2 separate regions of the Homo sapiens genome follow, and region 2 is linked to region 1. Evidence: fine-mapped expression QTL. Tissue or cell type: prefrontal cortex. Region 1 holds a variant in brackets; the other region holds the start of a gene. All regions are shown on one strand. Distances are from middle to middle.

Region 1 (4,524 bases):
ATTTCACTAAATCCATCCCTATCATCCTAGGAGGCAGATCCTCTTATCCCCATTTACACATGAGGAAATGGAGGCTCTGAGAGGCAAAGTCACTTGCTCAACATTACAAAAGCTGCTGTAGAGGGGCAGTGCTGAGGCTTATAGCTATGCCTGCCTAACCCCAAAACCCCTGTGGGTTGAATCTCTGTGCCATGTTATCTCAACACAGCACAATTTTCAATGTGGAAGATACCCAGATAGGGAGTCCTGCATCCTGGCTGATGAGGGGGTGGGGGAAGGAGGCCTCAGTCAGAGCAGCAAACCGGGGAAGTTTATTTCTCTTGTATTGCACCCCACCCCCACCAGCCAGTACAGTGCTGGGGAGAAGCCATGTGCAGACTGTCACCCTTGACTTTGAAAGGCCCAGCTGCCATCTATAGAAGAGGAACTCCAAGCAAAATGACAACTGTCTTTCCAATTCTACCACAGATGCCATTTCACTCTTGCAGAAAACTGTGTTTATTTTCAGAGATACCTTTGAAACTTCAAATAGACAATGACGCTTGCTCAGTCAACCTGTGGCTGCCTCTTCATCTCCTAATGGTGAATTCCAAAAGCAGCCGACAACCCCAGGTCTGGTTAGAGGAGAATGAGACCAGCGGGAGAGCTCGGCCAGGCTGAAAGGATAAAGTGATTGGAACTAAAAGGGCTAAAGACAGGCCAGGGGGAGGAGGGACTCCAGAGAGAAGGGAGAAGCTAGGGAACATCAGGATGAACCCCAAACCTGCTAATGCCCCTTCTATGCTCAAATCCTCTCTCCTCAAACACAACCTTCCAATAGCACAGCTAGTCCCCAGCTCTACCAGCGCTGGGCCCTGCCCCTTCAAGACCAGACTGTACAAGGCCCAGGATTCAGGCCGAATTAGCTCTGACTCTGATAGTGCCCCATCCCTCATGTACCTTGACTGTCACTTGCTCTGGCACCCACCATTAGATCTGATTATCCAAGACTGTGGATTCAGTTCCTCTTGATGCCCCCTTGCTGCAATTCATTTGATGTGACTCTCCAGACATTTTATTCTAACTTGCTATGAGCTAGGCTTTGTGCTGCATCCTGCAAAGGATCAAAGGAGTTGAATCTTGGCTCTGCTACTGGAGAGCCCTGAGCAAGTTCCCTAACAACTCCCCTCCTTTTCTGTAAAATGAGTATACTATACCCACCCTGCTGGCTCTTGGGATGTCATCATCATTAAATATATTAAGGCACCAAGCTCAGCTTGGAGGTAGCTGGGACTTTGCTAGGTGGTATGAGATGGAGGCAAACGGCCCCAGTTAAAAGCTCACCTGCAACCAAGGCACAGCTGCAGGTGTGTGGGGTGTATGTCTGGAGAATGTGCAGCAGCAGGCAATAGTGTGTGGGCAGAGGTTGGAGGAAATGTGAGAGAATAGGATAAAAAGGTAAGTGTGGGGCAATGGCTCCACCATGGTGCCCTGGTGACTTGCACCTAACCAGAGAAGCTACCTCTTGAATGGCTTGGCACAATGCCTGTGCTCCTCCAAGGACATGAGGCTTGTAGGAGCTGCTGTGAAGCCATCTCCCACTCATCTCCCTCTCTCCTTGAGAGGTTGTCATGAATCAGTTTCTCAAGGTCTCCAGGGTGCTGACAAGGTTTGGCGCTTTCTGCCCTGTTTCCCCCACTCCAAAAGTAGAGCTGCAGAACACGAAACTGTTCAGCCAAAATCTGCAAGTGCCCCAGCTCATGGTGTAGTCATCTGATCCCTTCCATTTCAGGGTTGCTCAGTTTGGTGTTTGGGAAAGATCATGGGGAACTGGCCCCCCTCTTCACTGTCTATATAAAAATAATAACTGTCTAAACCTATAAGTGGTTCACTGTCTATTACCAGCTGAATTAGCCAGGCTTTGGCCTTGGCTTTGTTTTGTCTCATGTGCATGCACTTGGCAACAACTAAACGTGAAATTGTAGAGGTGGAATATTAGGGTGAGAACGTATTTGTGAGGTTTTTGAGCTATATCATCCTTTTGGATTTCTGACCTTTTGCCTTCTATTTTCACAGCTAACCCTAGGATGACTGGCCTCTGACACTTGAGCCATCCCATCATCTGTCATGGGTTGACCCATCCATCCCCTCAATGAGCCTGACCTTCAGGACCACTGACAGAGGAGCAGTCAATAGAAATTAATTGTTAAATACCCAGAAAATCTGAAATGGTATTTAATATGCAGTTCATCAAGAGCAAAAGTTCCTTAAATCTTCATCTAGAAAAGTTATTTATAAGGGATGAATATGTTGTATGAATATGTTGTATGCAAATATTATATTCAAGGGCAAGACCATGAAAACAGTTTAAGAATCCGACAGGGAATT[A/G]GATAAAGACATCGGAGTGCACTTGTCAAAATACAGCTATCAAGAATGATGATGTTGAAAAATAGTTTAGCAATATAATTGTCTAGAACCACAGGGAGTCTGAGATTTTACCCAACTTGTGAGTTAACAACTCTGCTATAGCTTCATGAAAGAAGACACAAGACTCCTGGGTCAGGAACAAAGGTCTCTAATACTCACAGCAATATCAGGAGCCAGAATTTCAGGATCCTTTTTCCTGCCAGTTTCTCAAGTCCTAATTACCACCGAGTTACAGGAAAGGGCCAGGTAACACTAGCACTGCCATCAGTGGCTGTATTACAGAACAGGAACTCCAAGCTTAGGAAACCCAAATCTTTTATAGTTAACAATGAACACATCTGCCATTGTTCTGAAGGGAGACGCTACCCCAATCTTCCACACCTGTTCACTATATAAATATCTGTGAAAAGATAGACAGAAAAATAGGTGGAGAATGCCTCTGCTCACAAGATGTGCAGAAACGTGAGAGGCTCATGGAGAACTGTTTCCCTACAATGACAAAATGCTGACGATATATTGTTATGTAAAATAAAGCAGGCATTTTTCACCTCATTTTCATGAAATATAGTGTGTTTATATAGATATTTAGAAAAGTATGAAAGGACATTCATCCAGATATCAATAGAAGAGTTTATTATTTTTGCTAGTTGTAAGTTCAAACTTTTCTAGTAAAAATAGATTACTTGTGAAATTATTTTTAATCTTTTTTTTTTTTTGAGATGGAGTCTTGCTCTGTCGCCCAGGCTCGAGTGCAGTGGCATGATCTCAGCTCACTGCAACATCCACCTCCTGGGTTCAAGCAATTCTCCTGCCTCAGCCTCCTGAGTAGCTGGGATTATAGGTGCATGCCACCATGCCCAGCTAATTTTTGTATTTTTAGTAGAGACGGGATTTCACCATGTTGGTCAGGCTGGTCTCGAACTCCTGACCTCGTGATCTGCCCACCTCGGCCTCCCAAAGTGCTAGAATTACAGGTGTGAGCCACTGCACCCCTCCTAAATGTCAATTTAATAACTGAGGGAGCCCTTAAAATACCCCGCTGACTTCCACACGGGTGTGTAAAATAGAATCTGCTCACGTCTTAGAGGAGATAAGTACATGCTTAATGTTCTTAGGAGAGACCTGCCTTTTGACATGGAAGCTGTGGTATTGTTGACAAGAGCATACCTCCTTAAACCATGCAAACCACGTTCACATCAAAGCTGCCTACGAATGATTATTTTCCATGATGCTATGCTCCCTCCTGCCTGCCTCAGTGGCAAGTGTGACTCAGCAAGTGTATCCAGGGCATCCCTCACTCTTACTTATTTTTGCCAAATGCAGTGGAAATGTATAGACTTTTTTTCATATTTATGTTGGCTGCAGAGCATAAATCTGAATAGGTTCTCCAAAGTAAGCTTTTTCTGCATGCATTTGCTCCCAATGATGATAGGTATTATGAATTGCTTTATAGTAATCATTATCCTTTTCCATATGTTTTACGGTTAGTCTGTGCTATAAACTTGTTTGATTTAATGATTTGGGTTCTCTCTCTCTCTCTCTTCTCTCCTCTTCTCTCTCTCTCTCTCTCTCTCTCTCTCACACACACACACACACTATACAACATACAGTTTCTTGTCTTTAAACAGGGATAGTGATTACCTTATAGATTGTGATTAGGATCAGATAAACTATAAGTAAAGCCCTGTGGTATAATGTGTGGGACAAAACTAACACAATTTCAAATTTTCTGCAACAAGTAAACAGTATTTTATAATTGACAAAACTAAAAACGAACTTTAAACTTAAAATTTCATATTACACAATTGACAATTCAATTAACTTTCCAATATTAGTGTCTCTGCGTATATATGTGTACAGAGACATATGTAACTTATTTAACTTTAAAGTATATTTTCTAATAGCTATTTAAGAGCCATCAAACTTTCCAAAAAAAGAGATAGCTTTTAAAAATAAGTGTTTCAACTTGTGATAGTTACTTGCATAAATTGATAATTTAACCAGCTAATTATTAAATCTATAATAGACAGGATGAAGCAGCATTAGGAGAGGGTATTTATCAGTTGCCTGGGGGCTGTCTCATAGCTTAGTTGAAATTCTTTTGGTTGCAAATGTCAC
Region 2 (4,264 bases), 88 kb before region 1:
CTAAAAAAAAAAAAAATCCAAACTCCTTCGTAATCTTACAAAACTTCAGGACAGACAGCTGAATCTCTCTGGCTGCCTCTTATTTCATCACTCCTACAAGTGTCCCATCTTTAGCCATCTTTATGGCACGCTACTTACTTCTGTGTATATTCTTGCTTTTCCCTGCAATGCTCCTTGTCAATTTTTTACTTGGCTAACTACTGTCTACTAGTCTTGAAACTGTAGACTTCTGTGACTCTCCTCACAACCAGGCAATATGCAGCTCCTCTGTTTTCTCACAGCGTGTTACGCAAGTCTCACTTATCACACTATCACGCTGTGAGTCTTCCTTATAAGATGGAGAATTATCTGAGGGCTTTCATCTCCATATCCATAGCATATGGTAAGTGCTCAAAACTAAGGAATGACTGAGTGGTCTTGTAAATGGTAGAACTTTCATCTGCCTTAAAATGATCTAACAACTAGCATTTAATAACTCACCCTGTATTGACATTAAGTCATATATATGAAAATTCTAGGCTACCCCAAATAGGTTGTTATATTTAAAAGCTATTCAACACTTACACGTAAGACTTAATGAGAGCTTAGTGATACACAGTATTAAACTTTAGACTAGACAACATGTTAGCGTCAAAGTGGGATTTTACTTACCTTTACAACATCAGCTTTATGCTTTTCTAAAACTTGAAGAGTTTGGGCAGTAATGGAATCAATCACTACCACAAGTGAATGACATCCATAAGCAATTAAACCTTGCCAGCCCCTAGCAAAACAGTAATGTTAAAGTTTAAGTACAGAACAAAGCAGGACGACTTCTTTCTTGCCAAGCCTAAATAAATGATAAGTCTAATTCATATGTACCACCATTAATAAAATCATTTAAACCCAAAGGCCAGTATTTATCATTATCCCACTTAAATAAAAGATCTGGCTAAGCTTAAAATGCTTGTTGAAATTCACTTTTCATTCGGATAAAAAAAGTTCTAAAAGATATGAAAATAGAGACCCGAGGACATAAAAAGGAACTTGTGCCCTCTGACTGTTCTTGTAGGCATACGTCTTTCGCTTATCCGATTTCTAATCCTTAGTATCCACAATGTGCCTGGGGATACTGCGACTAATCCTAGTCCTTCCAACTAAATAAAACGACAAACACTGCACAAGACGTTTCAGTCCTCCTAACAACATCCCACAGCCACAGAATTTTGCTTTACATTTGTCTAATGAGTAGTTTTCAGAGCTGCAGTAGTAATTTATAGTGAAAGGAGAGAGTAATAAAGACGACCTGTTGAAGGCAGGAATGTTCTACACAGGAGGAGCCCGAAAAGAGGTGAAAAGGACAGGTGAAAGAACAGGCGCCTAGCACAGGGTCTGGCACATTGTTGAAAGACAACAGGAATACAAGACAACGAAAAAGAAAAGACAGGATGGGAAAGAGAAAGTGCACAGGGAATTAATGGTGGAGAGAGAGAAGCCTGGAAGCTGGAGGAGAGGAAAAGAGAGAGGAATGGAACGGCAAAAGGGCGAGGTGCAGAGAAAACAGCAGAGAAATACGCGAGAAAGAGGGGAAATGTATTTGCATGGGGGAATTTCCCACACGGGGCTATTATCACTTTTGTAACAACAAAAATCCACCAACTGAAAGCAAGCTCATTGCGTGAGGGCGGCTCCCTGCCTTAGCGAGGCCAAACTAACCAGGGGGTGAAACCTCTTGTCCTTCCCCCTTCCCCCTCACACATTCCTGGCCGATCCTGGCGACCTGGAAGCTCGGCGTCCTCACCAGTCCACCGCCGCCTTGTTGTGGGCGTTGAGGGCCCCCGTGAGGGTGCGCGCCGACACCTTGAAGTTCACTGTGTAGGGCAACATCCCGGCGGCCAGCCCAGGACCTGGGCGCTGACCCGCAACCAGGAAGCGGCGGACACTGTGCTTCCGTTCCAAACAGAGTCCGGGTGGCCCCCTCGGCGCCGCTGTCAGGTTCCTCTAGATTCAAGTTCTACAGGCTCCGGGTTCCACCGCTCCCGGATTCCATCGCCCCCAGGTTCCGTTGCCTTCAGTTTCCTAGGATCCTAGGTTCCGCACTCTCCAGAGTTCCGCCGCTTAGGCGGTTGTGCTAATCTGCGTCAGCTGGGGCTGTATTTGGAAGAAGAGGCGCTGCCTCCAGTCAAGTCTGTTTTTTTCAGGTGGGGACTGTAGGCCTTTGTGCCCTGCTGGAAATCGTGAAAAGCAAGAGAGAAGAGTCCCAGTTATTCTTGCTGCCTTTGATAAGTGAATTTAGGGCAACTACTAGTGCCAGTAGGCATGGGGGATCTACCGATGAAGAAGACACAAAGTCTCCGCTCTCGTGGAGTTTACAGAGAATAATGAATGAGATTAATTAAGAAATGAATGAGATTAATTGAATGAAATTGCCAGACTGAATGAAGTGAATGGCCTGAATATAAACAATTTCCAAATACAGATAACACTGCATATCTGGTGTTTGCAATACTCCCTTCGCACTTGAGGAAGAAGCACTATGTCTGGGGCCAAGTGTGACCCTTTGTCTGTTGCTGGGTACCTTTCATTTCGCACTTTCTCCTCTGCTGCTCTCCAGGTCAGACCCAGTCCTTCCCTCCTTTGTGTTCAGTGTTGGGTTTATACGCTTTAACTATAGCACTTAATGCAATGATTTCTTTTCAGCAATGATATTTGCAGATGTGTGTTTCTCTCCCCAATACATTGTTAGTTTCATGCGCGTCCGTGTGAAGAGACCACCAAACAGGCTTTATGTGAGCAATAAAGCTGTTTATTTCACATGGGTGCAGGTGGGCTAAGTCCGAAAAGAGTCAGCGAAGGGAGATAGGGGTGGGGCTGTTTTATAGGATTTGGGAAGGTAATGGAAAATTAGTCAAAGGGGGTTGTTCTCTGGTGGGCAGGGGTGGATCTCACAAAGTACATTCTCAAGGGTGGGGAGAATTACAAAGAACCTTCTTAAGGGTGGGGGAGATTACAAAGTACATTGATCAGTTAGGGTGGGGCAGGAACAAATCACAGTGGTTGAATGTCATCAGTTAAGGCTGTTTGTACTTCTTTTGTGGATCTTCAGTTACTTTAGGCCATCTGGATGTATACATGCAAGTCACGGGATGCGATGGCCTGGCCTGGGCTCAGAGGCGTGACATTCCTGCCTTCTTATATTAATAAGACAAAACAAAATAGTGTTGAAGTGTTGAGGCGGCGAAAATTTTTGGGGGGTGGTATGGAGAGAGAATGGGTGATGTTTCTCAGGGCTGCTTCAAGTGGGATTAGGGGTGGCGTGGGAACCTACAGTGGGAGAGATTAAGCTGAAGGGAGGTCTTGTGGTAAGGGGTGATATTGTGGGGATGTAAGAAGAAACATTTGTCGTATAGAATGATTGGTGACGGCCTGGATACGGTTTTGGATGAATTGAGAAACTAAATGGAATAAGAGAAGGAGAAAAACAGGTATAAAAGGTCTAAGAATTGGGAGGACATAGGACATCTGATTAGAGAGTGCCTAAGGAGATTCAGCATAGTCCTGCCAGCAAAGATTATTTATTTACTTCAAGAGTTTAGAGTGGCAGTTTGGGGATAGCACCAGGAGATATCAGCTGTGATGGCTTGGAGAAACAGTGTAAACCGGCAGTGTAAACAAGAGCAGGGCATGTATGAGTAGTTGAGAATGGTGAATAGGAGTATGACTACAAAAGATAGGGATGACAAGTTTTTTGGGGCACAGTCTAAGTTGGTCTGGTGTCAAATGAGACTGGGGCCTAATAAAAAGGAGCGTCTATACAGGAGCTTAAATGGGATGTACCTTGTAGCATTCTGAGGACAGGCCTGAATTCTGAGAAGCGAAAGTGGTAAAAGTATTGTCCAGTCCTTTTTAAGTTGGTGGCTGAGCTTGGTGAGCTGTCTTTTTAAAAGACCTTTAGTCCGTTCTACTTTTCTTGAAGACGGAGGCCTGTAAGGGATATAAAGGTTTCACTGACACCTACTAAGAGCCTGAAAAACTGCTTGGCTGATTTGACTAATAAAGGCTGGTCTGTTATCAGACTGTATAGAGGTGGAAGGCTAAACTGAGGAATTATGTCTGACAGAAGGAAAGAAATGACTGTGGTGGCCTTCTCAGACGCTGTAGGAAAGGCCTTTACTTATTCAGTGGAAGTGTCTATTTGGACTAAGAGGTATTTTAGTTTCCTGACTCGGGCATGTTGAGTAAAGCTAATTTGCCAGTCCTGGGTGGGGGCAAATCCTCGAGCTTG

Direction of the effects. Positions count from the first base shown, and alleles are read on the strand shown. Sizes are in standard deviations (SD) of each study's normalised expression.
In carriers of allele G in region 1, the expression in prefrontal cortex of the gene that starts at base 2,108 in region 2 tends to be lower than with A alone (moderate effect, 0.49 SD a copy in BrainSeq).

What was found. PIP is the estimated chance that this variant, and not a neighbour inherited with it, causes the effect.
Region 2: WDR11-DT starts here. The variant in region 1 is fine-mapped to the expression of WDR11-DT in prefrontal cortex (BrainSeq, PIP 0.95).

The regions. Positions count from the first base shown.
Region 1 is chr10:120,761,207-120,765,730 of GRCh38, reverse strand. The region is part of intron 2 of LINC02930 (long intergenic non-protein coding RNA 2930); the gene reads right to left. It overlaps WDR11-DT (WDR11 divergent transcript), which reads left to right. Exons shown (of 3, transcript NR_033850.1): 3 at 2,056-3,919. Among named protein-coding and RNA genes, the nearest start is that of WDR11-DT, 88 kb to the left of the region's middle. The variant A/G (reference allele first, on the strand shown) is at 2,368.
Region 2 is chr10:120,849,023-120,853,286 of GRCh38, reverse strand. It overlaps WDR11-DT (WDR11 divergent transcript), which reads left to right and starts at 2,108. Exons shown (of 3, transcript NR_033850.1): 1 at 2,108-2,593. It overlaps WDR11 (WD repeat domain 11), which reads right to left and starts at 1,925. Exons shown (of 29, transcript NM_018117.12): 1 at 1,781-1,925; 2 at 652-763. The coding sequence starts at 1,866. RefSeq lists enhancers at 1,441-1,500, 1,195-1,738, 1,511-1,980, 2,141-2,260, 1,739-2,283.